Linked DNA regions of Homo sapiens. The protein of the gene in region 1 purifies or fractionates together with the protein of each later gene. This does not show direct contact. Each region holds a gene or a part of one and is shown on either strand. Other genes may lie near its edges.

Region 1 (6,980 bases):
ATGGAGTAACTTGCTTCAATATTACCTTAAAGCAGTAACTGGGTGAAATGAAATGGCATAAAGACTGCATCTCCAAATATCTCTACCCATCACAGTCCCAAGATATTCAATTATTAATTTTTTTCTCCAGGGATTCAAATATAAATGTACAGAAGTATAACATTATTATCTCAGTAAACCTCTCCATGGGGATCATGTTCTTTGGGAATACTACAAATGAGAAAAAAAAAAGTGAAGTATTGATTTACATATTGAAAAAAATCCTGAATGAAATACATAAAAAAGAAGGCAACATTTCAACCATGAAGCAGACTTGTATTAGATTGGCATAGTAACTTTCAGATGGGAAGGGAGAGTAGTTTACCTATCTTTGGAATTTGAAGCTTTGATATTAGACAGTGTGGTACAGGGGATAGAGTTGAGAAACCTGAATTTAAGCCCTGTTTTGTTATCAACTAGCCAAGTGACTCAGATTAAACATTTAACTCCTTTGGATGTCAAGTCTCTTATTTTTAAAATGAAGATGTTGGATTTGATAATCACCAAGGTTCCTATCCAGATCTAAAATTTCATGTACGGTAAACATTCATTTTAAGGGGTATGGTTAACCAGTGCCTACCACAATATTTGAAAGCATTGTACTAGGTGCTAGGCAAGTAAAAAGATAACTATAACAAGTTTCCTGATATCAGAGGTTTATATGGTGTGGATTATTTAAATGACCAGGTAATATTTGCAGAGCATTATGTAGTCATTTTATTATACTTTGTAAAACGTGGGGGCAGTGAGGGTCAGCCGACTAGGAATGAGCTTTGCCTCTCAATCCTTAGGCTATAGCTGACTCTTTATAAAGATCTGGGTAAATTACCTCTAAGTCTGTTTTCTACTTGAAAATAATCATACTGACTCAACTGAAAGCAATGTTGAGAAATAACAGAGGTTGTACATTCTATAAATTTTTATGGACACCATGCATATGCCAGGCCAGTGTTGGGAGCTGGGGCAAAGCAGCCGACCCATCCTTCATCTAGCTTAACTCTTATACACATTATTATAAAGTATGCTGCAAATAAATTAATAGAGCAAATGACTAGCTATAATTAATTGTGGGCTTATTGTAATTTAGAGGTGTCACGAAGGAAGCCCTTTTCTGTGCAAAATAACATGTGTCTCAGTCTTTGAAGTACCATGGTAAACGGTAAAAAAAAAAATCATAAATATTACACACACAAAAGATTTGAAACTTGTATTAAATGACATATAATTTATTATTTCCTAGATGTAGATTAAGCTGAAACATAAATAGAATAAAGAATGCAGGAGCAGCTTCCCTGCTCAGAGTAAGGGCGGATATTCTTACTGCTAGATCTGCCCAACAAGCAATCCCCTATCTCAGAGTCCAGAGGTACCTACCCATCACTGTGGGGCCCCGCTGAGGTACTGTCATGATAAAGGTGATCAATAAGGATGTTCTATGAGAGATTCTTGTCTTGCGAAAGAACCTGAAGCAAATAATAAATAACTTCAGGTACAGTTCTGAGATTCCATAAAGTGATTCATAAATGTTTGAATGATAAAAATATTATATAAATAGTATTATAAGGATGTAATTTATTAAAGAGAAATTAGCGATTAAGATGGAGGGAGCATTTTACCATGGGAGTGCTGTGGGACACAGAAACTGGTTTGTCTGAGCCCCTTCCAAATAGCATAACATTTGTGTCCTGATTTAAAATCTAAATTTCAGAGCCTGGAAACCCAAAAGCCTGGGCTGTAGAAATCTAAAACCAAAAAGACCGTGCGTTCTGTTACCTGTGATTTGTGGTGTCACCTACTCTTTGAGGCTCCCAGATGGCCCAGGGCCTTAGGATATGGGGATGCCTTGTAGGTGTGTTGTTGTTGGAGTTGGTGGCTGGGATGAGGGTGGAGGCAGGGTAGGGTGGGGGTGGGTTGGGGTGGGGGGAATCCTCCGTTAATATCTCGAAATATTGTTCTGTTACCATAATGCGGTGTGATAAGTTAGCTTCAAGTATTGAAAAATCAGGGCAGGACTCATGGAAATGGTGCGAATTCTTGACTTAGGGTCAGAAGAATTCACCAAAATTAACGTCTCCCTCTGCCAAATAACAGCCAGTTTCAATTTCTGGACGGCCTCTCCGCGGGAGTGACAGGTTTTCTTAGATGCCGCCGGGGGTCTTTCACGGGCTGGTGGTCTGCCCCCTGGACTCGTCCATGTGTTAGGCTCAGTCCGCAGCTCAGAGCGCGGCCCTGTATTTCTGTCTGATGTCTGGGGCATACAGATGTGTGTGACGGACAATGCTCGTGGCATTCGAAGCCTCTTTAACAGACATTAGTGACTAGAGGAAAGAAGTGTGCGAACTCTGCGAAACAAGTATGCGGACTCTGGAAAAGAAGTACATTTCGAAAGTGGGGAGAGGATGGATCTTCGTAGGAGAAATGGAAATTTGCTCCCCACCAGAAGGTTTGCTGGAAATTAAGACGCGGCAATTCTTAATCCAGTTTCCTGCGGTAGGAAGCAGCTGACAAGAGAAGTCCCAGTCCGAGTTCGGCGCGAACTGGACAAGTGTCGTGGGACAAGTGGCGGGAGACCCGGCCGCGTCGCGCCGGGCGCTAGGGACGGACGCATTTCCCTACTTCCAGCAGCTGGTACGAGCCGCCCCCAACTGCGCTGCGCTGCTCTATTCTTTGGGAAACACTTCGCGTGCTTTGTTTCAGACGCCGACCCATCTTTCTTGGTGGGTCTCCAGCTCCACCAATCCCGCCCGCCACTGGGCGGGGTTTCAGGGTCAAGGTGGACCAATTTCCCAGCTTCGCCCCTACACGCGCTCTCGGACCCCTGGGGGTGACTGACAGCAGCCGGGCCCAACCCGCTGCTCCGGAGCATGGCCTCCGCCAGGGGCGTTACGGAGACAAGGCCCCAGGACCAATCGTATTGGCCAGTGGGGGGCGGGGCCTCGTTGCCAGCTCCAGACCGGCGCTATGGGCACTCCTTTTGTCAAATGAGAGACGCAGCAGGGCGGCCCCTGAGCCGCGGTTTAGCCAATGGAGAAGGCGAGATGGGCGGGCTGGGAGTGCCCGGCGGCGGGTCCTCAGCTTCGAGCCGAGGTGCAGTGAGCTGGTGGGGGGACCGCGAGGCGAGCGCGGGAGCCTGGGCGGCGAGCCGGGTGTGAGCTGCCTGAAAATGCACTCGGATGCCGCCGCTGTCAGTGAGTAGCAGAGAGCCAGCCAGCGGGCCGGGGCCGGGCGGCTGCCAAACTCGCCACTCGGCTCCCGCAGTCCCCGCCCCACGCCTCGGGTCCCGAAACGCGCCGGGAGCCCCTGCCTGGGAACCACCCCTTCCCCTCCCGGGGCCGGGGCGGGCGGTGACGCTGCGGGCGGCGTGGGGCGGGGGCGGGCGTGGGGGGAAGGGACCGGCCTGCGGGGAGGGCGGAGGTGAGGGGGGTGGGGACTGGCTCTCTTTCAGTGTTGGGGGAAGGGAGGGCTGGACGTGCGATGAAGGGCCGAGATCGGAGTGTCCGGGGTGCATGGAGGTGGAGGCAGCGTTGGGCTGTAGCGGGCAGGGCCGGGGATGTGGGGGGGTGGCACCGGCGGGGAGAGGGAGGGAGCGAGCGAGCGAGCGGGGCACAAGGGTGAGGATTTCCAAAGGGCTGAGTGGTGCGGGCGGCTCCGTGAGAAAGGCGGGTGAGTGCGAGGGGGGCGCGGGGGCGGGGACAATGGGAAGAAGGGCTGGTTGGCGGGGGGGTGGGGGGGGGGCGGCGAACAATGGGGTGGGGGAATGGGGGCAGCGGCCGAGCGGGGCAGGAGGGCGGGCGACTGGACGAGGGCTGATGTAACGGGAAAGCGAGGTGGTGGGAGGGACTGGGGTGTAATGGTAGTTGGGGAGTCCTGCGGGGCGGGAGGGGCGTTGGAAGGGCGGTGGGTAACGGAGAGTGGTGGGAGTGGAAGATGTTGGGGTAAAGAGATGGGGCAGGTGTGGAAGGGTAGGGCGATTGGGAGGAAGAGGAGAAAAAGGTGGGTAGGATTTGGGGTGGCAGAGTGGGGGCAGGGGTGGAGAATATGAAATGGGGGTGAGGAGCTAGTCGGGGAGGAAGGGGAGGTGGGGCGGAGTTGGGCAGGAGGACTGTCACGTCCAGATTCGGTCCGGAGCCGGGCTAAGGGGGTGTCAGACTGTGCTTAGGGGAGGTACTTCCTCTCCCTGTCGAGGCAGGGTCCCTTGAAGGGGGGAGTCCAAGCTTCGGGGTGCGGAGAGAGGAGGGGGCGGGGCTGAGGTGGAGGAGACGGGGTAAGTGCCCTAAGGTTGGAACTGGCCGTGGTTCCCCCCGGACGGCGGGAAGCGAGGTCAGCGCTGGCGCGGGCTCCGGCAGCGGGACTAGGAGGCGGGGCAGGGGTGCGGGCTGCGGGGTTTCAGCAGCGGGAGCCGGAGGGGTCGGGCCCTGATGGCCGGGTCGGGGGCTTGGCGCCGGGGAGGTGTCGGGGTCCCTGGCAGTCCGTGGGTTTGATAGTCTGTGACGCAGTTGTCTAATTTCTGGCTATCAGGTGTGGGGGTTGGTGCCATGGAACCCGCTTCCTTAGAGGGATGGCCGGGCCCTAGGCCGCGCCCCACGCCCGGGGGGCGCGACTTCTCCCAGGCGTGCTGGGAGGGCGCTTGAGGGGTTTCCTTTAGGGTTTGTCTCCAGTCAACGGGTATGAAGGGGAAAGGCGGTCCCGCCGAATTCTGGGACTTGTAGTCGCGGCCGCGCCCGGCCGCGGTTGGGTTGGGTGCACGTGGGTAACTGTGGAAACGGGTCCCGGCATGCAGCGCGCCCTTGGAGCCTTCCTGCTCGGCCAACTCGTGCTTTATTCCCCGGCCAGCTCCTGCGCGCTCTCGGGAGGCGGTTGAGTTCCCAGGGACGGAGCGACTCCCCAGCCCTTCTCCCTTGGGAGAGGGAGAGCCCACGCCAGGCGCAGCCCTCTTCACGCTTAGGTTCTTGGTCCCCAAGTGAATTTCCCCCTGCATTTTGTGGCCTTACTTGTGGAATAAATGCTTGGTCTTGTACCATCATGCGCACGGGTTGTGGGAAAACATTTAAGAAGCAACACAATGTAAAGCAGCCTTTAGAATGGTGTATTTAATTTTGGCATCCAGTGTGTGTAAGCACTGGGTTCCAGCATTCCCTTGCATAAATATGAGAACACAGTGGAGGTACACGTAACCCTTGTAACGATAATATAAACTATGTGTTGGTATTTCTTGGGGTGTTTGAAAAAATAACTGTCTTGAAATGAGTGATGGAGGTGGGTTAGTGGAATTTAGGGTGGAAATGTGAAGGTGAGCAAAGGTAATATGTGACGTCTTCAATTTTCGAAGAAGCTTGGAAAGCAAATGAGAATAGAAGAAAACTGTAAAAAGTGGAGAACCATAAGACTTTTTTTGTTTGCTTGTTTTATTATTAGCTGCAGGCTGCAATTCCTTCTCTCCTTAATACTAGAAACCTTCCTCTCCATAAGTAGACTCCCTAAACGTCACATCCTTCACCAGTTCCCTTTACTGTTTACAGGGAAGGGACTCCAGAATCTGTAATGTAGAAGGCTAAGATTAATGCAGAGATGATAGATTTTTGTATGTAATATATAAGGTATTATGAAACTACTTGCAACATAGTCATTAGAAGAATATTGTAATTTTTCTGATGATAAAAATATTACCAAGAAGTCCTAAGATTTGTAAACCTTTTGGTGTGGTTACAAACATACTGAACTTGGATACTTGATTGTTTGATGGTTCTTTTCATGATGAGTGAAAAATTGGGCAATGTGTGTGGTGTTCTTGTGGAGATCATTTATATCTATCTGTCATATTTTACTTAATCGTGTGGTGAAATATCCAGGAAACTCTTGGTAATATAAAAATATGTACAAAAATGTGCACTTAACTCTGGAATTTTTTCTTGCAGAGGGTAAAGTGATGAGGTTGAAAAACATGCAAGAGCTATAATTGTCTTCAAAATGGTGTTTTTAAAGAAAATATGAAGCTAGTCATAGCTTTCTCTTTTTCTTTTGTTCTATTATATCCCAAAGGGCAGGTGCTTTTTATACACATATAGCCCACCTCCCTCCATTCCCCAAAGCCCTAGGCTCCTACACACTTTCTGCTCTGGTTTTTAGGTTCCTTTTTGATTTTTGGCGCTTGGGGAGGTCCTTTATTTTCTTGTGAACGTAGCTGTGCATTTAAACAGATGTTTCTTACACGTTATCCAGAATTTTTGACTGTTTTATATTAAGAAGGATTTTTAGGTAATCTTGTCTGTAACATTGCCAGAAAAGAAGGCCTGCCTCATTTTCTCTTAGTGGACTTCACTCTCTTCTTCCTCTGTTGTTAACTCTGTGTACCCCTACTGGCACTTAATCATGTTTTTTCAAACTTTATCATTGTCTCCTTTTCTGTTTTTATGTTAAGTTGCTCCCAGCAGCTCTTCTTGGCTTATTACCTTCTTCCTGGCTACGTTTACATTATTATCTCAATCATCATCTGCTAATTATAACTAATAATTAATAGCTAATAATCCTGCTAACTTAGCAGTATAAAAATCAACCTGTGAGAAACTGACCTCATGATGATCTCTTGTATCAGTTAGGATGCCTTTGCCAATACAATGCTCAAATTAATGGCTTAAATAATAGGGCTTATTATTGTTCGGTAGCAAGAAACCTAGAAGTAGTTGGTTCTAAAGCTGGTGCAGTGGCTTAATGATGTCATTAAGGATCTAGGTTCTGCATCTTTTTCTTCTTCTATTAGTGTTTTAGCTTTTATTCCTCAGGCTCATTTGCCTCATGTTTGCAGTATGGTTGCCGTAGCACCAGACATCATGCCTGGATTGGAAAGCAGGGAAGGAAGGTGCATATTTCCTTATAACTCCCTGTTAACAGAGAAGTCTTTTGCAGAAACTCACTTTGGAGAGTTCCATTTCAGTGTCATTGGA
Region 2 (6,899 bases), about 22 Mb from region 1:
TTTTATAGTTGATAAAGATAAAGCCCAGAGAAATGAATTAACTCACCCAAAGTCATGTAGCTAAGTGACAGGGCAAAAATTCAAACCAGTTCCCCAACTTTACGTGATTAATACTGTGCTATACTGCCTCTCTGATCATATGGCATGGAATGCAGACATCTGCTCCGTAAGGCAGAATATGGAAGGAGATTGGAGGATGACACAAAACCAGCATAATATCAGAGGAAAAGTCCAAACAGGACCTGAACTGATAGAAAAGTTGTTACTCCTGGTGTAGTCGCATCGACATCTTGATGAACTGGTGGCTGACACAACATACATTGGCTTGATGTGTACATATTATTTGTAGTTGTGTGTGTATTTTTATATATATATTTGTAATATTGAAATAGTCATAATTTACTAAAGGCCTACCATTTGCCAGGCATTTTTACATTTGTCCCCTCTAATCTTTTGATGAGATGATCAGATTGGATTACTTGGCCTTGAAGATGATATATCTATATCTACATCTATATCTATATCTATATCTATATCTATATCTATATATGTATATCAGAAAAGCTGAAATATGTTTTGTAAAGTTATAAAGATTTCAGACTTTATAGAATCTGGGATTTGCCAAATGTAACCCCTTTCTCTACATTAAACCCATGTTGGAACAAATACATTTATTATTCATTCATCAAATGTTGCTGAGTCCTGGCTATGAACCAGACACTGTGAAAGCCTTTGGGATATTTTGCCCATGCTTGGGCAAGCTTATATAGTTTGCTTCATAAAACTCTATTTCAGTTCTTCATAACTAATACTTCATGACTATTGCTTTTCAGGTATTCCTTCATAACAAATACTTTGGCTTTCATATATTTGAGTAAAGTCCCCCTTGAGGAAGAGTAGAAGAACTGCACTTTGTAAATACTATCCTGGAATCCAAACGGATAGACAAGGATGGTGCTACCTCTTTCTGGAGAGTACGTGAGCAAGGCCTGTTTTGTTAACATGTTCCTTAGGAGACAAAACTTAGGAGAGACACGCATAGCAGAAAATGGACAAAAACTAACAAATGAATGGGAATTGTACTTGATTAGCATTGAAGACCTTGTTTATACTATGATAAATGTTTGTATTTGCTGGAAGTGCTACTGACGGTAAACCCTTTTTGTTTAAATGTGTGCCCTAGTAGCTTGCAGTATGATCTATTTTTTAAGTACTGTACTTAGCTTATTTAAAAATTTTATGTTTAAAATTGCATACTGCTCTTTCATTGAAGAAGTTTTGAGAGAGAGATAGAATTAAATTCACTTATCTTACCATCTAGAGAAACCCAATGTTAAAACTTTGTTGTCCATTATTTCTGTCTTTTATTCAACATTTTTTTTAGAGGGTGGGAGGAATACAGAGGAGGTACAATGATACACAAATGAGAGCACTCTCCATGTATTGTTTTGTCCTGTTTTTCAGTTAACAATATATTATGAGCATATTTCCATTTCATTAAATATTCTTCCACAAAGTTATTTTGATGGCTGTATATCACCCTACTTTATGAATGTACCATATTAATTTATTTCCTGGTGTGGGTTATTTGATTTTATAATCTTACCTTTAGAATAATGAAACACCTGTGAAGCTTTAGAAAATACTGGTGCCTGGGTCTCAACTCCACAGATTCTGATTTAACTGGTCTGGGTTACAGACTAGGCATTGGGAATTCAAAAAGTTCCCCCAGTGATTCTAATGTGTAGCCAAGATCGGGAACCCTTGTAGACAGGGATGATAGGAGGTGAGCCACTCTTAGCATCCATCATTTAGTATTAACATCATCATCTTGAGTTGCTAAGTGAATGATGCACCTGACCCACTTTATAAAGACACATGTGCAAATAAAATTATTATAGGACTTGGTTTATTAGGGCTTGTGCTCTAAGTTTTCTATGTTAAGCCATACATCGCATACTAAATACTTTAAAATGTACCTTATTGACATACATATTAAGTGAAAAGTGTTTCTGAGCTAAACAATGACAGCATAATTATCAAGCAATGATAATTTGAAATGAATTTATTATTCTGCAACTTAGGGACAAGTCATCTCTCTGAATTTTTTGTACTTTGAGAGTATTTGTTATATTTGCAAGATGAAGAGTCTGAATTGGTCAGACAATGTCTTGTGTGCCTGGCATATGATAGGCATTTAATAGTTTTAAAGAATTAATGTATTTAGATGAATTGCATACCAAATCTGCTGTCTTTTCTTTATGGCTTCATTAACTTAATTTGAGAGAAATTAATTATTCTGCAACTTAGGGACAAGTCATCTCTTTGAATATTCTGTAGTTTGAGGAGAATATTTGTTATATTTGCAAAATAAAATAAGTTTGCAAGTTTTTTTTTTCTGCCCCAAAGAGCTCTGTGTCCTTGAACATAAAATACAAATAACCGCTATGCTGTTAATTATTGGCAAATGTCCCATTTTCAACCTAAGGAAATACCATAAAGTAACAGATATACCAACAAAAGGTTACTAGTTAACAGGCATTGCCTGAAAAGAGTATAAAAGAATTTCAGCATGATTTTCCATATTGTGCTTCCACCACTGCCAATAACAAAATAACTAGCAACCATGAAGTGGGTGGAATCAATTTTTTTAATTTTCCTACTAAATTTTACTGAATCCAGAACACTGCATAGAAATGAATATGGAATAGGTGAGATATTTTGTGTTTTTCTTGTCTTTTCTCTATATCAAAATTTTTTAAATTATAAAATTTGCATTAATTTGTCTTGATTTATTATTCATATTTATTATTCCACATGGAGAAAAAATATTTAACTGATGGATATATTTAAATGAAAGATAAACTTGTAACTTTACAAGAGGTTTACAAAGTTATAGCAGTGTTTAATGGATGAATGGTTTGTATGTTTCATGTTGAATTAATTTTTACACTTCAATGGTATGCATATTAACTTTGAAAAATTATATATATACACATATATGTACATATATATGAATATAAATAAAATTTTATATGTGAAGAAGCCAGAATTATGCTCCTTCACATAACTCCCTCAGACTAGTAAAATAGATAAAATCTTTGTTTTTAATACAGAAAAATGGGTCATTATTTGATGGTCTGAAGAAGAAATATTGTGACTGGGATATGAATGGCAAACCGTAGTATAACTATGTTCAAAAGAATGCCTGAAATATATTTTTAACCATTTGACTTTCAGGACAGTTACAGCACTACAGTACAGGGAAAAACCAAACAACTGGAAGACAAAATCTGGATTTTAGTGATAGGTCTACTATAAATTATGCTTGTTAACTTCATTCCTTAGTTTCCTAGTTTTCTTTTCCTCAAGTATAAAATTAAGATGCTTAGGTTATCCCTAATGTTCTTTTAATTCTGAAACTGTACAGTTCTAACTGAAACACAAACATTCATATGTAACAATGATTACTTTCTTGGTTGCAGTTGAAAACACGTTTCATGAAGTTTATTTTGCTTTCCAGCTTCCATATTGGATTCTTACCAATGTACTGCAGAGATAAGTTTAGCTGACCTGTAAGTTTTGCTTATATAAATGTACTTTAAATGTGTAAAGCAAGGATAAGTAAATACTTAAATAAAATTGGGTACCCCTGTGAGCTCTTAAAAGCACAAAAGCAATTTGGACAATTTCAAGAAAAGTTACTCATACTGAATATCAACTTGATGTTGAAGAGGTTAAACTGTTGACTAATGTCTTCGACATTGACCTTTTGATTCCTTGAAATCTCATGAGTCAAACCAAATCAGATTTTAGAAACTGAAGATTAGTGTCTGATCAGTGACAGCCATATACTAATTCAGGAATTTTTCTCATCAGTACCAACAGGGTGATATTATAATGTTTTCTTTTCTGTATACTATTTAAATCTTAGCAGCAAACCATAGGTGATAAAATATTCTATTTGCTGTTATTTGTGGAGAGTATGTTAGTCTCTTGGATGTCTTTCCATTCCACATTTTAAAAATTTCTAACAAAGAATTTAAAGTAGTGTGTTGCTGTTACTCCTTGCACATCCAAACCTGCATAAGGATTGCTTTGAGTCAATCCATGAGCACTGTAGTCTTGGGTTTTAGACCTTGATCATACTGGGAATAGACACTGTTAGAGGTCTGTCTAATTACCAATTTTTTTTTGCTTAAATTTAAAAGTAACCATAAAGAATATAGATACCCTCAATTATGGGTACATTACAGTAGATGGATGGTCACAGAAGGAGAAACCACTCTTATGGGAAATCCACTTATTTTAGCCTTTAACATCTATATGTATATTTATGGCAAAAGAAAACAAGAAAAAGACTAAAGTTTCTTCTCAGATGACCTGGAAGCTAATTTTACATAATTTTACAAATCAAATGTCTAAACAGATTACAACATAAATAGAAAACAAAACAAACAAATGAAAAACTATACTTGAGAAAAATAAGCTTGCTGCAGGTCTGTTCCTTAAGGATTCACACGTATTTTTGTTTCAGGGCTACCATATTTTTTGCCCAGTTTGTTCAAGAAGCCACTTACAAGGAAGTAAGCAAAATGGTGAAAGATGCATTGACTGCAATTGAGAAACCCACTGGAGATGAACAGTCTTCAGGGTGTTTAGAAAACCAGGTGAGTGAATAATTTTAAAAAAGCATTGTGATATTTGACAAAAATTTAGCATGCTGAAGAGAAGATACAAAAATAGCAGTGAAAAATGCATTTATATATTTGAAGAGCTATTGTATGAAAGAGGGATTAGATTCATTCTGAATTGCTAAAGAGGGCAGAAGAGAACAATAGGTAGTTATTATAAAGAGACCATATAAATATGATGACTGAGAGCTAAGGTTCTGAAATAAGATTATCTTGATGACTATGGGCATATTAACTTTTTTGAGCTTCAGTTTTCTTATCTGTAAAATAAGGGATGATAATAGCTCCCATTTCATAGTTAGCATGGAAATTGATATAACAGCAATAGTAGCTAACTTTTATTATACACACAATGTGACTGGCATTATTCTAGGGAGCATAATGTGTATATTGATAATAAAAATATTTTATGACATAGGGGATAGATAGCACTGATGAATCAGAATGGTTGTCCAGTGAGTCAAGAGATGCTGGCTCGGGCTTCTGGGCAGGATATCAGCTTTGCTTACCTATATTTATTTATTAAACATTTAAAATAATCCTTGAAGATAGATGCTAATCTTCCAACTGAGGAAGCTGAGGCTCAGAGAATTTAAGTAACTTTCTTATGGGAACCACCAAATGGCAGAGCCAGGATTTGAACTAGACCATCTGGCTTAAAATTGACAGTCTTAGTAGCTTCATTACACTATAACTATAGTGAATGTAAGATGCATAGCACATCGTTAGGGTTGCCAGGTTTAGCAAACAACAACAAAACATAATACCCAGTTCAATCTGAATTTTAGATAAACACTAAATACTTTTCTTAGTATAAGGATATTTCATTGTAGAAGCTCAACAAATAATATTTATTATTTATTTTATCTCAACATAGAAACAAACTTGATAATGATTAGAACTCTCCAATTATAAAACAACATGCCCAGAGAATACTCTGTTATGGTGGGGTTAATTAGGTGGCTGAAAGACAATGTACCTGGAATATCATAGAAGAGATGCTCCTTTAAGGATATAGTTTAAGTTCTTTCCAACTTTGAAATTTATGAATTGACAAAAATTTCTGTTTTGCATCTCTATTTTTGTCTTGTTCTGATAATCTTTTCAAAATGTGTATAAAAAAACAAGAATACATTATCTATTGCAACTTTACAACCAATTAGAGGTTCAAGGTAATGTTACAGATCGCTGATTTATTCTTGTAAATTCAAAGGTATGTCTTTTAAATGAGGATTGGGAATTAGAAATCTTACGTAAGCCTTCCAGGATTCTCTAAATATTACTGTAGCAGCTATAAAAGCTACATAAAAGTTCCCTCAGATACATGAAACACATGTATTCCTCAGATGCTTTCTGTGGAATATTGATGCTGTCATCTGAGTTTGGTAAGGGTAAGTCACAGAGGAGGAAACACATACATTTTAAAACATTTTAGCTAAATATGTAATTGTGGCCAAGAAAAGTGTTTTTTTAAAAAATAATTATTTCATTTCAAAATCATTTTTATTTATAATTGAAAATAATATGCAGTTTTTTATTGTCTTGTAAGGATGGCATGTAAAATGAGCATTTATGTCTGAAATGTGGTATGTCTGTGTGTGTGTGTGTATATGTATATATATGTATGTATATACCATAATATATACATATGTATTTGCAATTCCAAAAGTTACATCTTTAATGAGAATCATGAAAATATTATTTTGCTCAGTTTCTTTTTTTATTTAAATTTAAATTTAAAGTTCTGGTGTACACGGGCAGGATGAGCAGGTCTGTTACATAGGTAAACACGTGGCATGGTGGTTTGCTGCACCTACCAACCTGTTGCCTGGGTATTAAGCCCAGCGTGCATTACCTATTTTTCCTAATGCTCTCCCTCCCTGCACTCCACTCCCTGACAGGCCCCAGTGTGTGCTGTTTCCCTCCCTGTGTCCATGAAACATGGTTTATATATTTATAAAAGTTTATATATCCTAGTCCAAATTTTTGATAACACAAAAAGGAAAAATAAAATAATTCAAAATTGGGAAAGAGAAACAAAAGATTGCATGGCTTTTTTCCTTTTATTGTTTGGACATTAAAGTCTCATTTTCCATAAGGCAGCAAAGAAATCTATTTCATCAGGCTGAAACAAAATACATTAGAATTTGTATGGAAAATTTTTCAGAATCTATAGTTCTGATTTTAGACATTAGAAAATGTTTC
Region 3 (5,119 bases), on another chromosome or scaffold:
CGCCATTTCCTGGCTTGCTGCTCCCAGGATGCTCAGGGGCAGGAGACCACAGTGGAGATCGACATCGCTCAGGAACGCTTTGTGGCCCATGGCCTCATGATTCTGGCCCGAAACTATCTGGATGTGTATCCATATGATCACTGGAGTGACAAGGTAATAAAGAGTGGTCCCCAGTGAGAGGGAGGACAGTTGTGTTGTGAGCCCTGAGTTCTCTAGTGGAGCAGGATCATGTTCCTTGAAATGAGGTTATTTTTTGCCTGAGTGTGCTGATGGAATCATCTGACTGTTGCACCTGCCGCTCCCTGTAGATCCTCCCTGTCTATGAGCAAGGATCCCACTTTCAGCCCAGCACCGTGGAGATGGTGGACGGGGAGACCAGCCCACCCAAGCTGCTCACCGAGGCCGACCTCATTGCCCTCATGGAGAAGCATGGCATTGGTCAGTGGCTCCTCTGGGTAACTCGCATCTCTTGAGCTAAGGCTTACAGTGTACCAGGTACAGGTTTCCTCTAGTCTTCAAACCATTCTCTAATGCAGCTGCTATATCTTTATCCCATTTTATAGTTGAAATAAGGCTCAGAGAGGTTAAGAACTTACCTAAGTTCACAAAGTGTGTATTATTAAAACCTGGTCTGAATAACTCCACAGTCAGTGCTCTTAAACCATGCACTGTGCTGTCCACATAGTAACAGAGACTTTTCCCATGGCTTTGAGGGCCCAACTGGGAGCACCCATTGGCCACATGAGGATTTGTTGTTCTTTCGAATAAGAACAGCATGTAAGGAACCAACAATTAAAACTTGGGACAGTTATCATAAAATCTATCTTCATTTTGAAGTGTCAGATAGAGCCCTGAGCCTCCTTCCCATGTGGAGCATTGGGTGAGGGTGGCAGCTGTCTCTGCAGGTCTGAACCCACACTGCTCACTCAGGCTGCTCACGCTGGCCTCATGTATGTGCCAGGACCCTGCTGATAAGTCCCATGGCTCAAGCTTTGCAGGTAGGGCCTTGTAACTAATCTGCTGTCCCCTCCATTCGTTTTTGTCAAGGCTCTCAAGGGCTTTCTCTGGCAAACCTAGTCCAGGAATACCTGCAGCACAGTGGAGGGGAAGCAGAGCTCCCTGGGCATGTGTTACATAAGCAGCTGCGTCATCCACAAAGGGAGTTTCTTAGGCCTATGACTTGGGAAGCAGTGCTTCAACGTGAAGTCCTTGACCATCACTAGGACATCCAGAAACCCTGCAGGTTTAGGTAAAATTAGTAGAGGTTCACCCGTCATGATTTATTTGATAAAAATGTATGAAGGCTGGGTGTGGTGGCTCACACCTGTAATCCCAGCATTTTGGGAGGCCAAGATGGGTGAATCACTTGAGCCCAGGAATTCAAGACCAGCTTGGGCAACACGGTAAAACCCCATCTTGCTGGGCGCAGTGGCTCACGCCTGTAATCCCAACACTTCAGGAGGCTGAGCTGGGTGGATCACCTGAGGTAGGGAGTTTAAGACCACCAACCTGACCAACATGGTGAAACTCTGTCTCTACTAAAAATACAAAAATTAGCCAGGCATGGCGGTGGGCACCTGTAGCTGAGATTGTGCCATTGTACTCCAGCCTGGGCAACAACAGCAAAACTCTGTCTTAAAACAAACAAACAAACAACAACAACAACAACAAAACAGATCTGGCTGGGCACGGTGACTCATGCCTGTAATCTTAGTACTTTGGGAGGCCAAGGCGGGTGGATCACCTAAGGTCAGGAGTTCGAGACCAGCCTGGCCAACATGGCAAAACCCCATCACTACTAAAAAAATACAAAAATTAGCTAGGCGTGGTGGCACATGCCTGTAATCCCAGCTACTTGGGAGGCTGAGGCAGGAGAATTGCATGAACCCGGGAGGTGGAGGATGCAGTGAGCCAGGATCGCAGCACTGCACTCCAGCCTGGGTGACAGAGTGAGACTCCATCTCAAAAAAAACATTTCTACAAAAAATTAGGTGCATGCCTATAGGTAGGGAGGCTGAGGTGGGAGGATCACTTGAGCCCGGAAGGCAGAGACTGAGGTACAAAGTGTGAGGCCCACAAGAGTGAGAGCTTGGACTAAGCACCAGGGACACAAGGAGGAATAAGACCTCATTTTTTAAGTTCTCAATCTAACAGAAGAACCAAACCAACACATTGAATACAATGTAATAGTTCTGCAGGGAGTAGGCAGGGAAGAAAATGTGATGGGTGGACTGGCATTTGAGCTGGACCAAAACCTCATAGTAAGACTTCTGGATCAGCGAAGGGCAGCCCAGTGCAGGGTAGGCCTGAGGAAGGGCACAGGAGCAGGAAAGCAGAAGCCTGCTGTAGCTGGATTGGAGGGGGGTGGCCATAGAAGGTGAGCCTGGAAAGATGATCCAAGCCTGACTTTGCAGGGCCTTGGCTTGCCCAGTTGAAGGGCTTAGATGGTGGTACATGGTCAGCAGGGAGTCTTCCAGGATTTCTAAGTAAAGGAACCACATAGAGGTACACTTACAAAAAAATAATAATAATATTTTTAAAAGATTATTAACAGGCTGGGCATTGTGTCTCACACCTATAATCCCAGCACTTTGGGAGACCAAGGTAGGGGGTCAGGAGTTCAAGACCAGCCTGGACAACATGGTGAAACTCCATCTCTACTAAAAATACAAAAAATTGCTAGGTGTTATGGCTGACGCCTGTAATCCCAGCTACTTAGGAGGCTGAGGCAGGAGAATTGCTTGAACCCGGGAGGTGGAGGTTGCAGTGAGCCAAGATTGTGCCACTGCACTTCAGCCTTGGTGACAGAGAGAGACTCCATCTAAAAAAAAAAAAAAAAAAAATTTATATATATATATATATAATTATTAACAGCTTTATTTATATACCATACAGTTTATCTCCTTCAAATGTATAATGTACATTTTTTAGCATATTCACAAAGTTGTGCAGCTATCACCACAGTCAGTTTTTTTGTTTTTTTTGTTGTTTGTTTGAGATGGAGTTTTGCTCTTGTTGCTGCAGGCTGGAGTGGAGTGGCACAATCTCTGCTCACTGCAACTTCCGCCACCCAGGTTCAAGCGATTCTCCTGTCTCAGCCTCCCGAGTAGCTAGGCTTACAGGCACGCACCACCACACCCAGCTAATTTTTGTTATTTTTAGTAGAGACAGGGTTTCACCATGTTGGCCAGGTTGGCTGGTCTCAAACTCCTGACCTCATGATCCGCCCACCTAGGCCTCCCAAAGTGTTAGGATTACAGGTGTTAGCCACCATGCCCGGCCCCTAAAAAAATTTGTTTTGGAGAGATAGCATCTTACTCTGTCACCCAGGCTAGGTCACAGCCATGAACCCTGGGTTTCAAGGGATCCTTCCACCTCAGCTTCCCAAGTAGCTGGGACTACAGGCATGTGTTGCCATACCCAGCTAATTTTTTTGTTGGGTTTTTTGTTTGTTTGTTTTGTTTTGTTTGAGACAGAGTCTTACTCTGTCACCCAGGCTGGAGTGTAGTGGCACGATTTCAGCTCACTGCAACCTCCGCCTCCCAGGTTCAAGAGATTCTCCTGCCTCAGCCTCCTGAGTAGCTGGGACTACAGGTGCGCATCACTGGCTAATTTTTGTATTTTTAGTAGAGATGGGGTTTCACTGTTAGCTAAGCTGGTCTCGAATTCCTGACCTCAAATGATCCACCCGCCTCGGTCTCCCAAAGTGCTGGGATTATAGGCCTGAGCCACCATGCCCAGCCAGACTTTTTTGTTTTATGTAGGGACAGGGTCTTGCTATGTTGCCTAGTCTGGTCTTGAACTTGCACCCTCAAACTGTCCTCCTACCTCAACCTCCCAAAGTGTTGGGATTACAGGAGTGAGCCACTGCACCTGGCCAGATTTGCCTACTTTAGTTATTTCCTATAAAGAGCCAGGCACAGTGGCTCACACCTGTAATCCCAGCACTTTGGGAGGCCAAGGTGGGCCAATCACTTGAGGTCAGGAGTTCGAGACCAGCTTCACCAACATGGTGAAACACTTTCTCTACTAAAAATGAAAAAATTAGCTGGGCTTGGTGGCAGGCGCCTGTAATCCCAGCTACTCGGGAGGCTGAGGCAAGAGAATCACTTGAACCCGGAAGGCAGAGGTTGCAGTTGATGGACACTTGAGTTGTTTCTACTCTTTGGCTATTATAAATAATCCTGCTGTGAACAGTTTTGTACAAGGTTTTGTGTGGATATGTGTTTTCATTTCTCTTGGGTAGACTTAGGAGTGGGATTGCTGGTTTACTTGGTAACTCTACATTTAACATTTTTAGGAACCACCAAACTTTTCTGAAGTGGCTGTACCGTTTTTCATTTCCACCAGCAAGGCACTAGGATTCCAGTTTATCCACATCCTTACTAACACTTAGTATTATCTCTCTTTTTGATTTTGCCAGTAGGTCTGAACTGCTATTTCACTGGTTTTTTTGGTTGTTTTTTTGTTGTTATTGTTGAGGTGGAGTCTCGCTCTGTTGCCCAGGCTGGAATGCAGTGGCTCGATCTCCGCTCACTGCAGGCTCCGCCTCCCAGGTTCATGCCATTCTTCTGTGTCAGCCTCCTGAGTAGCTGGGACTACAGGTGCCCGCCACCACACCCGGCTAATTTTTTTTTTTTTTTTTTTGTATTTTTAGTAGAGACGGGGTTTCACCGTGTTAGCCAGGATGGTCTTGATCTCCTGACCTCGTGATCTGCCCGCTTCGGCTTCCCAAATTGCTGGGATTACAGGCGTGAGCCACCACGCCCAGCCCTTTTTTTTTTCTTTTTTTTTTTAAAGAGAGTCTCACTCCATCACCCAGGCTGGAGTGCAACGGTGCCATCTCAGCTCGTTGCAGCCTCTGTCTCCTGGGTTCAAGTGATTCTCCTGCCTCAGCCTCCTGAGCAGCTGGGACTACAGGTGCGTGCCGCCACACCCTGCTAATTTTTGTATTTTTGATAGAGACAGGGTTTCAGCATGTTGGCCAGGCTGGTCTCGAACTCCTGACCTCAGATGATCTGCCCACCTTGGCCTCCCAAAATGCTGGGATTACAGGCATAAGCCACTGCTCCCAGCCTTCACTGCAGTTTTAATTTGCATTTCCTTCATGGCAGAGCTA
Region 4 (6,199 bases), on another chromosome or scaffold:
TGTCATGCTTTCCTGTCACTGCCTGGGATTTCTTTCTTTCTCAGCTTAATAGAAGTTCTATATATTTCAGTGATATTAGTGAGAAATTAAATTATAAATATATTCTTAACTATTTTGAACCATTATAGTTCAAAATATATACTCTGAGTATGAACTTGCAGATCTTGTTGTGATATAATTAATTTAAATATGAGCCAGGAACGGTGGCTTACACATGCAATCCCAGCACTTTGGGAGGCCGAGGTGGGCGGATCATCTGAGGTCAAGAGTTCGAGACCAGCCTGGTCAAAATGATGAAACCCCACCCCCCACTACTAAAAATACAAAAACAATTACCCAGGCGTGGTGGTACACACCTGTAATCCCAGCTACTCAGGAGGCTGAGGCAGGAGAATTGCTTGAACCCGGGAGGTGGAGGTTGCAGTGAGCCAAGATCACACCATTGCGCTCCAGCCTGAGTGACAGAGTAAGACTCCGTCTCAAAAACAACAACAAAAAATTTAAATACTATATGATAGTCAATTATTTAAATTTTATAAACTGACAATTAAATTTTATAACTGATATAAAATTATTAAATTAAATTTTATTAAAATTTATAAATGTTATATTAACATGTTATAAAATGAGAATCACAAAGAAGAAAATGTTAATGTAAATCTTGAAGCAAAATTATAATAATTTTCCAATATTGCCAAGTTTTTATAAATTTGAATTATAGTACCCACACATGCAAAATAAATGGCACAGAAGAGAAAACATCATTTTTTTCTTTCCTGTAGGAATTGTAGTCAACGGTCAGCTTGTTGGTGCCAAGAAGCCCAACAATGGAAAACTAAGCACCTATTTTGGAAAACTGGGATTTTATTTCCAAAGTGAAGACATAAAAATAGAAATCAGCACTGAGACCATCACCCTGAGCCATGGTTCTAGCACATTCTCCTTGTCCTGGTCCGACACGGCTCAAGTCACGAATCAGAGGCAAGTATGATTCCATCTGAACTTGGGCCTGTCCGTGACACACGACTGCATAAATAAATCCAGGCATCAGTGACATCAACATTGAAAAAAAATCATCATTTTAAATATAAGGAAGTTGAGGTTCAGAAAAATTGTTCTCACTCCCTACTCTGTTCCTGGCAGTGGGCACTGTGTGTTTTTGGTCACCGTTGGGTCCCAGGACCTAGTCCAGTGCCTGGCATCAGTAAACACTCACTGTGTATGTGCTAATCAGTGAACAAATCCACCAGCTGAAATCCATACTGACTCTATCGCAGAGTGAGCTCCAAACGCCATGATTGTGTCCTCTGCGTAGAAGCTTCCCAATGAGTTTCTGTTAATCCATCATTTATCTATAAACTGTTGCAAGCGCTTAGATAACTAGCGGAATTGTCTGGGAGGAGTGAAGAGTTCATATTAGGGGTGAGAAGAATGACTTTCTCAAAAGGTCTGTTCTGGAATGGTTTAATTCCTCTTGGACTTTCACACCAGGGTGCAGATCTCAGTGAAGAAAGAAAAAGTGGTAACTATCACCCTGGATAAAGAGATGTCCTTTTCTGTTTTACTTCATCGTGTTTGGAAGAAGCATCCCGTCAATGTTGACTTTCTGGGAATCTACATACCCCCTACAAACAAGTTCTCACCTAAAGCCCACGGACTAATAGGTAAAGTGTCTATTGACCATCTGACAAGGGTGGGGCCGCTCTAATTCTTTAGCAGCTTTGGTTGACAGTGGTTACAAGTTGAGGACATGGCAGGTGTGGACTCATGAGCACAGAGGACTAACATAGCAGTGTGGGGTCGCTCGGGAATGTGACAGCCAGGACCTTTTGCCATTCCAGACAAGGTTGTCCAGGGCCAGGATTTCAGCATCACAAACTGGGCAAGTTAAGAGAAGGGACAGATACATTTTAAGTTTTATGTTAAAGATTTTTTTCTAACTGAAGCAAGATGAACCCATTTAGGAGGTCTGTGATAACAAGCAGAACACTCTGGACAAATGTCCCTAGTATTTTAAGAAGGGCTCAAATATAAAGCCTGTGACATCACAAACAAAACTTTTTCCTGTGATCTGAGCTATACTCTCAGGTGCTCACCTCATTCTCCTGCCATCAGGGTGCTCGATTTACTTACAATCCACTAGACCAACCTCATGTATAAAATGACCATGAGCTCCAGGCATGGTGGCTCGTGCCTGTAATCCCAGCACTTTAGGAGGCCTGGGCAGGTGGATTTGCTTGTGGAGTTCAAGGGCAGCCTGGGCACCCCATCTCTACCAAAAAATTAGAAAATAAAAATAATTAGCAGGGTATGGTGGAGCCTGCCTGGAGTCCCAGCTACTCAGGAAGCTGAGGTGGGATCTCTTGAGCCCCGGAATTGGAGGCTGCAGTGAGCTATGACTGTGCCACTGTGCTCCAGCCTGGGTGACAGAGGGAGACTCCATCTCTTAAATTAATTAATTCATTAATTTATGAGATGGAGTTTCTCTCTTGTTGCCCAGGCTGGAGCGCAGTGGCGCAATCTCGGCTCACCGCAACCGCTGCCTCCCCGGTTCATGCGATTCTCTTCCCTCAGCCTCCCGAGTAGCTGGGATTACAGGCATGCACCACCACGCCCAGCTAATTTTGTATTTTTAGTAGAGATGGGGTTTCTCCATGTTGGTCAGGCTGGTCTCAAACTCCCAACCTCAGGTGATCTGCCCACCTCGGCCTCCCAAAGTGCTGGGATTACAGGTGTGAGCCACCACACCCGGCCCCAAATCTTAAATTTAAAAAAAAAAAAAAAAAAAAAAAAAAAAAAAAGGCTGTGAGTAGTGGCTCACACCTGTAATCCCAGCACTTTGGGAGGCTGAGGTGGGTGGATCGCTTGAGTCCAGGAGTTCAAGATCAACCTGTGCAACACGGTGAAACCCTGTCTCTACAAAAAATTAGCCAGGCGTAGTGGCTCACGCCTGTGGTCCCAGCTACTTGGGAGGCTGAGGTGGGAAGAACACTTGAGCCCAGGAGGTGGAGGTTGCAGTGAGCCGAGATAGCACCACTGCACTCCAGCCTGGGCAACAGAGGGAGATCCTGCCTCAAATTAAAAAAATAAAAATAAAAAAAAGATGGTGAGCAGCACAAATGTGCTCCCAGGAAGGACCCTCCCTCCCATCACCACTCCTTTTTCCTCTCAGCTTGTCTTTCCACCCTAGAAATCCTGGAGGGAGGACCGAAAGGTAGCATGGAGTCAATAATGAGCCTCTTTTTATTTAACTATGATTACATGTCAATCAATGTCTGATTCTGTTTTGCTAGGCCAGTTCATGCAGGAACCAAAGATACACATCTTCAATGAGAGACCAGGAAAGGACCCTGAGAAGCCAGAGGCCAGCATGGAAGTGAAGGGGCAGAAGCTGATCATCACCAGGTAGGCCTCGGGCGTAAGGACAGTGACGAAAAGGCCTTGTGTTAGAATTAGACCCACACAGCAAAATAGAGGAGCAAAGAAGAAGTGTCGTAGGCACTACCTACATCACACTAAGCAGTTCATTAGGAATAGACGCACACAGCATTCGCATAAGGACACTTCTGATATCCCACGTTAAATGCAAATAATGACTGGGTATCTAGGGTCATGCAATGCCAAGATTAACTAACCTGTTGTTCTCATCTTCATACTTTAGAAGCCCTCACAAGAGCTTCACAAGTTGGATAACCAGACACGTTGATCAAAGGAGAGAATCATAAAACACCTATTACCATAGTGCTGCAGAATGAATGTAGATTTTTACATCAGGCTAGAGTTTTCCTTTTGCACAGGGATCTCTGACTGCTTTTTTTGTAGCTTTTCTTACACAAACCACCCCCATATGCTTCATCTGAAGTGAGAACTTAGACGCTCATAACGCATTCTGAGTGTAAAAGTCTTACAAATCTTGATATTTTTTCCCAGTCCTTTACAGTTGTCTCACCCATGCCAAATTTGATACCGTTTTAAAGCAGCTTACCCCTTTTTAGAGTTTTTACAAAGCAGCCAACTTTGCTTTATTAGAAAGGATTCTTCACGCCCACAAATGTCATTGGCTTTGACATACTTAATTAAACCATAACATTGTAACATAAAATTGTAGTCGGAAGTATTGCCACGAAAGTAGATTTGTGAACTGAAACAATGGATTCTTAGTGAATATGCCATTCAATTAGTATCAGTTTATGGGAGGAATGAGGTACCGACGGGAATCAGTGAGCATGTGTCACAGAAGCAATGGTGAGCACAAATTATTAATGTTAATAGTAAGTTATCTGAAGTTGGTAGAAGGGCATTTACTGCCAGGCATGGTGGCTCATGCCTGTAATCCCAATGCTTTGAGAGGCCAATGTGGGAGGATCACCTGAGACCAGGAGTTCAAGACCAGCCTGGGCAACATAGTAAGACTCCATCTCTACAAAAATAAAAATAAATATAAAAATAATTATCCAGGTGTAGTAGATTCTGCCTATAGCCCCAGCTACTCAGGAGGCTGAGGTGGGAGGATCCGTTGAACCCAGGAGTTCGAGGATGAAGTGACTTATGATTGTGCCTCTGCACTCCAGCTTGGGTAACAGAGAGAGACCTGTCTCATAAATAAATACATAATATATAAATAGGCCAGGCGCAGTGGCTCACGCCTGTAATCCCAGCACTTTGCAAGGCCTGGGTGGGTGGATAACCTGAGGTCAGGAGTTCAAGACCAACTTGCCAACATGTTGAAACCCCCCCCATCTCTACTAAAAATACAAAAATTAGCCGGGTGTGGTGGCGGGCGCCTGTATTCCCAGCTACTCGGGAGGCTGAGGTAGGATAATCACTTGAACCCGGAAGGCAGAGGTTGCAGTGAGCAGAGATAGCACCACTGCACTCCAGCCTGACTCCATCTCATAAAATATGTATATATATTTATATATACATATATAAATAAATATATGTATACATATATATATATATTTACTATAATGACAAAAAGTAAATGCTGGGCCTCGATTTGGTCCACTGCAAGCACCTCATGGTTCATAACTGAAACTGAGCTGTCCCGTGGGCTGGGCACAGTGATACTTTTAAGTCTCGTTCACGCAGTGTGAACGAGATCCTTAACAAATTGTTGGCTACTTTGCCCTTCAAGTGGAGGACATGAATCTGCTCAGAAACAGCAGGTATCACTCTTAAACACAGAGAAAGTGCAGTTAAGAGGTGCCGCCAATGCATTCTTTTTTTTTTTTTTTTTTTTTTTTTTTTTTTTTTTTTAGTGACAGAGTCTTGCTCTGTCGCCCAGGCTGGAGTGCAGTGACGTATCTTGGGCTCACTGCAACCTCCACCTCCTGGGTTCAAGCAATTCTCTTGCCTCAGCCTCCCAAGTAGCTGGGACTACAGGCGTACACCACCATGCCCAGGTAATTTTTCTTTTAATTTTTAGTAGAGACAGGGTTTCACCATGTTGGCCAGGCTGGTCTTGAACTCCTGGCCTCAAGTGGTCCGCCCACCTCAGCCTCCCAAAGCGCTGAGATTACAGGCGTGAGCCACCATGCCTGGCTGCTGACTCATTCTTTAAGTGACCTGTGAGGTCAGCCTCAACACTGTGGAGTCTTGTTCCTGCCTTCTTTCCATTGGCTACTGTTTCCCTCGCTGGAAAAGCCCATATAGGTCAACTCTAAGGGTTCTTTGAGTTCTCCAAGGACGCTTCGCTGATTCTCTGTGCTTCCAACACCAAGCCCCAGACTTGGTGTTTCTTTTTCACATGACTTGGGGAGCAGCGATAGGTGGGGGGCGGCAGATGTGGTGACAGAAGGAACACGAAGAACAGCAAGGAAAAGAGGGAGTCTTGTGTCTAGAGGTGCTCAGTCTCCCCCTAACCACATGCCTTGCTTCCTTGCAGGGGCTTACAGAAAGACTACAGAACGGATCTAGTGTTTGGAACGGACGTTACCTGCTGGTTTGTGCACAACAGTGGAAAAGGATTCATTGACGGGCATTACAAGGATTACTTCGTGCCTCAGCTCTACAGCTTTCTCAAACGGCCTTAAAGGTTTATAGTTTGGGAAATTATATATATTAATATACATCTTTCCCCTGTCACTTTTGCAGATATTCTTCGGTTTGAATAATTAAAATGAACCAGATATCAGGGTGGTTAATTAAAATGAACCAGATATCAGGGTGGTTTATAAAGCCTGTAAACACACCTAAG
Region 5 (4,955 bases), on another chromosome or scaffold:
CAGTGTTTACTGCCCCCAGGGAAGGAAAAAGGGCAGGAGGGAGGAAGCAGGTGGCCAGCTCTTTCCCATAGATGAATTCATCGCTGCAATTGCTAAAGGTGAGGACAAAGCAAAAGCTGCTCCCCTGGCTCGGTGCCCTCTGGCAGGGCTGCAGGTCAAGGGAGCTCAACAGGGCCCATGACCTGCGGTCTTACAGCCAAAACCGTGCACTCTGGAAGGTGCATGCTGTTGGCATCCAGAGGGCCGAGTGAGCAGCCCGGGGGTGTCCAGGTTAGGGTGGGTCCCCAGGGAGAGGGAGAGAAGAGAAAGAGCCCTGTAACTCCTGACTCCCAAGTGTGCCCCGGCCCCACCTAGCCACCCCGCCTGCCTACCTGTCAGTGCCCCCTAAGTGACTCGACTGGGAATAAGGGCAGGTTTGTTGTCCTGGTTCAACATTTGCTGTGTAACTATTGTTTTCTGGTCTTTAACCCAGACTGCAACACAGCTTCCTGGAGGTCAGGGGACAGCTCTTACACTGGACTCCAGTAGAGGACGTCAGTCACAGTGTTGGTTTTGGAGTCATGTGGTCCAGTGGTAGACCAGGAATCAGGAGACTCTGGGCTTTCCATCTCACTCCAACCGTATTTTCAAGTGATGAGCCTCTTGCCTTCTGTGAGCTTCCTGCAAGTGGGCTTAGCTTACATACTTTGCATCATCTGAAGGCACGACAAGAGAACATTGAAGAAAGAAGTCATAGGATCCTGTTTATTGTAGACAGGGGTCCGCGCACAAAAATCAGGATTTGGAGACAGAGGGAGCACTCAGGAGGCATGGTTTGGGGAAACTGAGTCAGGAGTTAATGACATATATTGAATCTTTTTGGTCTCCTGAAAACTCTTATGCTGTGTATGTAAGTCACCTCCTCTAGGCTGTCCCCCAGGCTTGCAGGGCCTGCTGGCAAATGGTCCTATGTGAGACTGCTTGCCAGGTGGCTGATGCTGTGCAGGAGGGGAGGGAATTTGGAGATGGCCAGTGTCTTTGCCTGCCGAGGGAGTGGAGACTACTGAAAGCCCGTAATAGGACAGTGGGGCACAAGGCATGCATTTTAACAAAGTTTATCCTGGTGGCCTCTTTCAGGGGTCCAAGGAGCTGCCCAAAGGCCCCCAAGGGGCGGGGAAATGGAGACCAGGTGGCTTGCACTTTGGACTCCCTCCCCAGCTTCAGGTGGGCTGCCTTGGGCTCTGTCTCCTTTAGACATGGGACTCTGAGTCAAGTACATGTCAAGAACGTGTTCCGCAGTGAAAAGGAGAAACAAGTTTGAACGCCACTGATTTAAACTAATACAGCAGATAGCATTTAATTCCAGTAAGTGGTTTTTCCCCTTCGGTGGTTTTGATATTCTAACAAGCCAACGTGTCTGGAGCTAAGACTCTCAGCTCCTTAATGGGGAAGGAAATCCTGGCAATTTCTCAGCCCCGCTGGACGCTCCTAGCTTGACCTCAGTTTCCTCACCTGTAAAATTGGGGTGATCTCAGCTTCACCTTCCATATGAAGCCATTGTAAGGAGCAGAGGAAGTGAGGAAAAGAGGCAAGTTTTCCAGTTGAGGAGACTGGAGGGGTGGAGTGTGACATAAGAACAAGCCTGCCCGCTGGGGTGTGGTAGGGGTGAAGCCAATTTCACAGCCTGGGCCCAAGAAAGAAACTACAACTTGAAGATAATAGTATTTACACAGATTGAATCTGTGATATAAAGTTTATGGTTCGTTTGGACTGTTCTGGAATATCCAATAAACACTGGGAGTAGAGGAGAGCAGGTGAGGGTTCAAGGCAGAGCTGGGGACCAAACCACCCACCTCTCTTCTCGGGCAGCCCATGGTGTTGGCATGATGTCCGGGATACAGAAGGCGCTCAATTAATGCTTGCTCAACCCAGATCCTGTCCCCTTTTCCTTCTCACTTGTCTTCCTCTGCTCCCCCGCGGGGATGACAGTTGAGAAAACTGTTGCTTTGAAGAGTTAAAAGGCAAAATCCTATGAAACTGTCCACAATGTAATTTTTGTGGAAGCCTGAGACCCCTCCAGATCCAAACTGTCAAAAAGCATGCATTAAACCCTCCCAGTCCTGCCACATAAGCCTCACCATCTAAAGGTTTGTAGAATTGTTAAAGGATGCCAACTAGTGGCTTCAGCAAATTCAGAAAACCCCAACCATGGTTCCCTGCCTCATTCCTCCCCATCTGCTCCCTCCTTCTCCCTGGGACCAGGCAATGCACCCCCTCTTCAAGTGTGATTCTGAACGTCCCCACCTTCTTGGGGAGGGGGCAGGATTTAAATCACAAGATATTTAATCAGAGTTCTCTCCTCTTGGTAGCTCAAATAAGAAAAACCAAGCAAAGCAAATCCATCTTTTCTATAAAACTTCATTTTGTAATTTTTTTCCAAGAAGTAGTAAGGGGGAAATATTGCAATTATGTAAAGGTAAGGAACAATGGTGTATAAAAATAATTTAAGCACAATATTAATAACAAAGCAACTTTTTTTCAAGGAAAACTAGTAGGTCATCTTGCCCAAGATTTTTCCAAAGGTATTAAATATATTTTCAATAACAGTACATACAAATACACATACACAAATATACCACACAGACACATGTGCACATACATGCACACACACACACACACACACACACACACACACACATATATATATACAGCTCAAGTATTTTTTTGGTGTGCATTCTAGCTAATCCACATAGCTAAAGTGAAAAAACACTGAAAAGATCAATGCCTGAGTAACCTTAAATTTGAACAAACTATGCATTGGATGTGAATTTTTGGAGGCATGCTAAGATTTCCCTTCTCAATTTCATTAGCTACTACCCAGTGTTCTGTGGTTCTTATCCTTAAAAAAATCAAAGTGTGCCTTTCAGATCTGCTCACGGTGTGGTGATGATTATTATGGTGGCGTCAATTTGGGAACACTTGCCCTCTCTTGCTCCTACTGCACCTTATGGATGGGAAAGGGAATGATTTTAAAGGTAAAGCACTCAGGCCCTGATTACATCTGGCTTATTCTTTGCTTCAAGGCAAGGATCTCTCTCTCGATTTCACAGGGGAGGTCGGCATTGACTTGATCCTCCAGATACTTCTCGATGTCTTCCACCTCCTTCTCCCAGAATTCCTTGGAGATGCTGAAAAGCTCCATCATGTTGATGTGCCCCAGGCCTTTCAGGTTCAGGGCATCCTCCTTGGGGATGTAGCCTATGGGCGTGAGCTTGGTGCTGGCTTTTCCATCGATCCGGTTGAACATCCACTCCAGCACCCTGGAGTTCTCTCCAAAGCCTGGCCAGAGGAATTTGCCTTCCTTGTCCTTCCGGAACCAGTTGACATGGAAGATCTTGGGCAGTTTGGCTGCTGGGTGCTGGGCCATGCTAAGCCAGTGGGCCAGGTATTTGCCGAAGTTGTAGCCAAAGAAGGGCCGCATGGCAAAGGGGTCATGCATGATGATTTTGCCTGTTAAACAGAGAGGGAGTTCATTAGTAAATGAGGCTCTCCTAGGCAAGACTGACGCCATTGATTGTTGACATTAGCATGCTTTGTTCTCCTCTCTCTCTTTCTCTCTCTCTCTCTCCCCACACACAGACACAGAAAAGGAGAGAGACATAAGAGTGACGAAGAGTGCTCTAATCCCACTTCTCTGTGGTTTCAGATCAGGACTTTGATTTACCTTTATGTTCTGCAGCCGCTGTGGCCTCTGATCTCATGGCCGCCCCCACAAAGACTCCATGTTGCCAGCTGAGAGCTTCATAGACTAGAGGGACACCTTTAGCAGGAAAAAAAAAGAGAAATGTTCATCAGAGGCTTTGAAATTCAGACTCCACAACCAGTGGTGTTATTCACAACACGGAAAGACACGGCAAGACAATAACTTTGTAATCGAGCTAGTTTTGCGTTCACCAAGCTAAATTGCAGAAAACTGCTAACTCAAAGTTACATGACTGAGGCCACAAAGTAAAAAGTAAAATTTGATCAAGCTACAATAGATCAGGGATTCAGAAAGGTTCCAGGTGACCAGAAGGGTTGGTTCTACATTTGAACTTGCCAATTATTCTGGATCTTTGGGAAGGAAGCTCAAGAAAGGAAGCCCCTGGGCACCCTCTGACAAGGTCATGGAAAAGGAGAGATTTCACAGATGCCCTTCGGTACCCAGCACACCCATGTTCCCAGCCTAAATGAAGGAGAGCCTCACCAGCAGGTCTACGGCCTCCAAAGATAATGCCTTCAATGGGAACACCTTCCGGAGACTCCCAGGCAGCATCAATGATGGGGCACTGGCTGGCAGGGGTGCAGAACCTCGAGTTGGGGTGGGCACAAGGTTCCCCTATAAGACAGAGAAAGGCTCGTGAGTGCCTGGCTCAAACAGGCAGTCCCTGCAGCCCGGCACACCAAGGCCTCTGGCAGGGACACACCATCCTCTGAGCTCCACTCCTTATTCTTCCAGGACGTGATGGTGACACCTGAAGCTAGCGGCTCATCAATGCCTTCCCAGTAAACGCCCCCGTCGCTGGTCTCGGCCACATTGGTAAAGATTGTGTTCTTCTGGATGGTCTTGATGGCATTGGGGTTGGTCTTCACTGAAGTCCCAGGAGCGACACCGAAAAAGCCATTTTCTGGGTTGATGGCCCTTAAATGACCTGGAGAGTTTTAAACCAGAGAAGCAGTAGTGAGTGCCAGGCAAAGCAGAACATATACTCTTATATATTGCCGGACTAATTTCTATGCCAACTTCTCAAATCTTTTTTCCCTCCCTAGAATATGCATTTATCTCTTTTCATCCAAGCATCATATGCAACTTTGATACGTTTACGACTCTTGCTTCCTCCACAATTTTCCACCAATACCATTTAAACAAATGTATGTATGTAAACAAACAGCAACATATGGCCCAGTTTCAATCCAGATTGAATATTAAGTTGAAG

Evidence for each region.
Region 2: the proteins of DCUN1D4 (region 1) and AFP purify together in Homo sapiens (affinity purification with mass spectrometry; one large-scale study listed by BioGRID and IntAct). This does not show direct contact.
Region 3: the proteins of DCUN1D4 (region 1) and TOP3A fractionate together in Homo sapiens (co-fractionation; one large-scale study listed by BioGRID). This does not show direct contact.
Region 4: the proteins of DCUN1D4 (region 1) and ITIH2 purify together in Homo sapiens (affinity purification with mass spectrometry; one large-scale study listed by BioGRID and IntAct). This does not show direct contact.
Region 5: the proteins of DCUN1D4 (region 1) and PCK1 purify together in Homo sapiens (affinity purification with mass spectrometry; one large-scale study listed by BioGRID and IntAct). This does not show direct contact.

The regions. Positions count from the first base shown.
Region 1 is NC_000004.12:51,840,041-51,847,020, forward strand, and holds the start of DCUN1D4 (DCN1-like protein 4), read left to right. Parts: upstream 1-3,112; 5' UTR 3,113-3,202; coding exon 3,203-3,227; intron 3,228-3,531; exon of another isoform or gene 3,532-3,545; coding exon of another isoform or gene 3,546-3,702; intron 3,703-3,960; exon of another isoform or gene 3,961-4,032; intron 4,033-4,203; exon of another isoform or gene 4,204-4,303; intron 4,304-4,331; exon of another isoform or gene 4,332-4,359; intron 4,360-6,980. UniProt on the Homo sapiens protein: Contributes to the neddylation of all cullins by transferring NEDD8 from N-terminally acetylated NEDD8-conjugating E2s enzyme to different cullin C-terminal domain-RBX complexes which are necessary for the activation of cullin-RING E3 ubiquitin ligases (CRLs).
Region 2 is NC_000004.12:73,433,637-73,440,535, forward strand, and holds the start of AFP (alpha-fetoprotein isoform 1 precursor), read left to right. Parts: upstream 1-2,584; 5' UTR 2,585-2,626; coding exon 2,627-2,711; intron 2,712-3,523; coding exon 3,524-3,575; intron 3,576-4,537; coding exon 4,538-4,670; intron 4,671-6,899. UniProt on the Homo sapiens protein: Binds copper, nickel, and fatty acids as well as, and bilirubin less well than, serum albumin. Only a small percentage (less than 2%) of the human AFP shows estrogen-binding properties.
Region 3 is NC_000017.11:18,285,876-18,290,994, reverse strand, and holds part of TOP3A (DNA topoisomerase 3-alpha), read left to right. Parts: coding exon 1-153; intron 154-308; coding exon 309-438; coding exon of another isoform or gene 439-473; exon of another isoform or gene 474-495; intron 496-5,119. UniProt on the Homo sapiens protein: Releases the supercoiling and torsional tension of DNA introduced during the DNA replication and transcription by transiently cleaving and rejoining one strand of the DNA duplex.
Region 4 is NC_000010.11:7,743,300-7,749,498, forward strand, and holds part of ITIH2 (inter-alpha-trypsin inhibitor heavy chain H2 precursor), read left to right. Parts: intron 1-782; coding exon 783-981; intron 982-1,491; coding exon 1,492-1,664; intron 1,665-3,293; coding exon 3,294-3,405; intron 3,406-5,887; coding exon 5,888-6,035; 3' UTR 6,036-6,199. UniProt on the Homo sapiens protein: May act as a carrier of hyaluronan in serum or as a binding protein between hyaluronan and other matrix protein, including those on cell surfaces in tissues to regulate the localization, synthesis and degradation of hyaluronan which are essential to cells undergoing biological processes.
Region 5 is NC_000020.11:57,563,884-57,568,838, reverse strand, and holds the end of PCK1 (phosphoenolpyruvate carboxykinase, cytosolic [GTP]), read right to left. Parts: intron 4,671-4,955; coding exon 4,446-4,670; intron 4,358-4,445; coding exon 4,226-4,357; intron 3,800-4,225; coding exon 3,704-3,799; intron 3,490-3,703; coding exon 3,035-3,489; 3' UTR 718-3,034; downstream 1-717. UniProt on the Homo sapiens protein: Cytosolic phosphoenolpyruvate carboxykinase that catalyzes the reversible decarboxylation and phosphorylation of oxaloacetate (OAA) and acts as the rate-limiting enzyme in gluconeogenesis.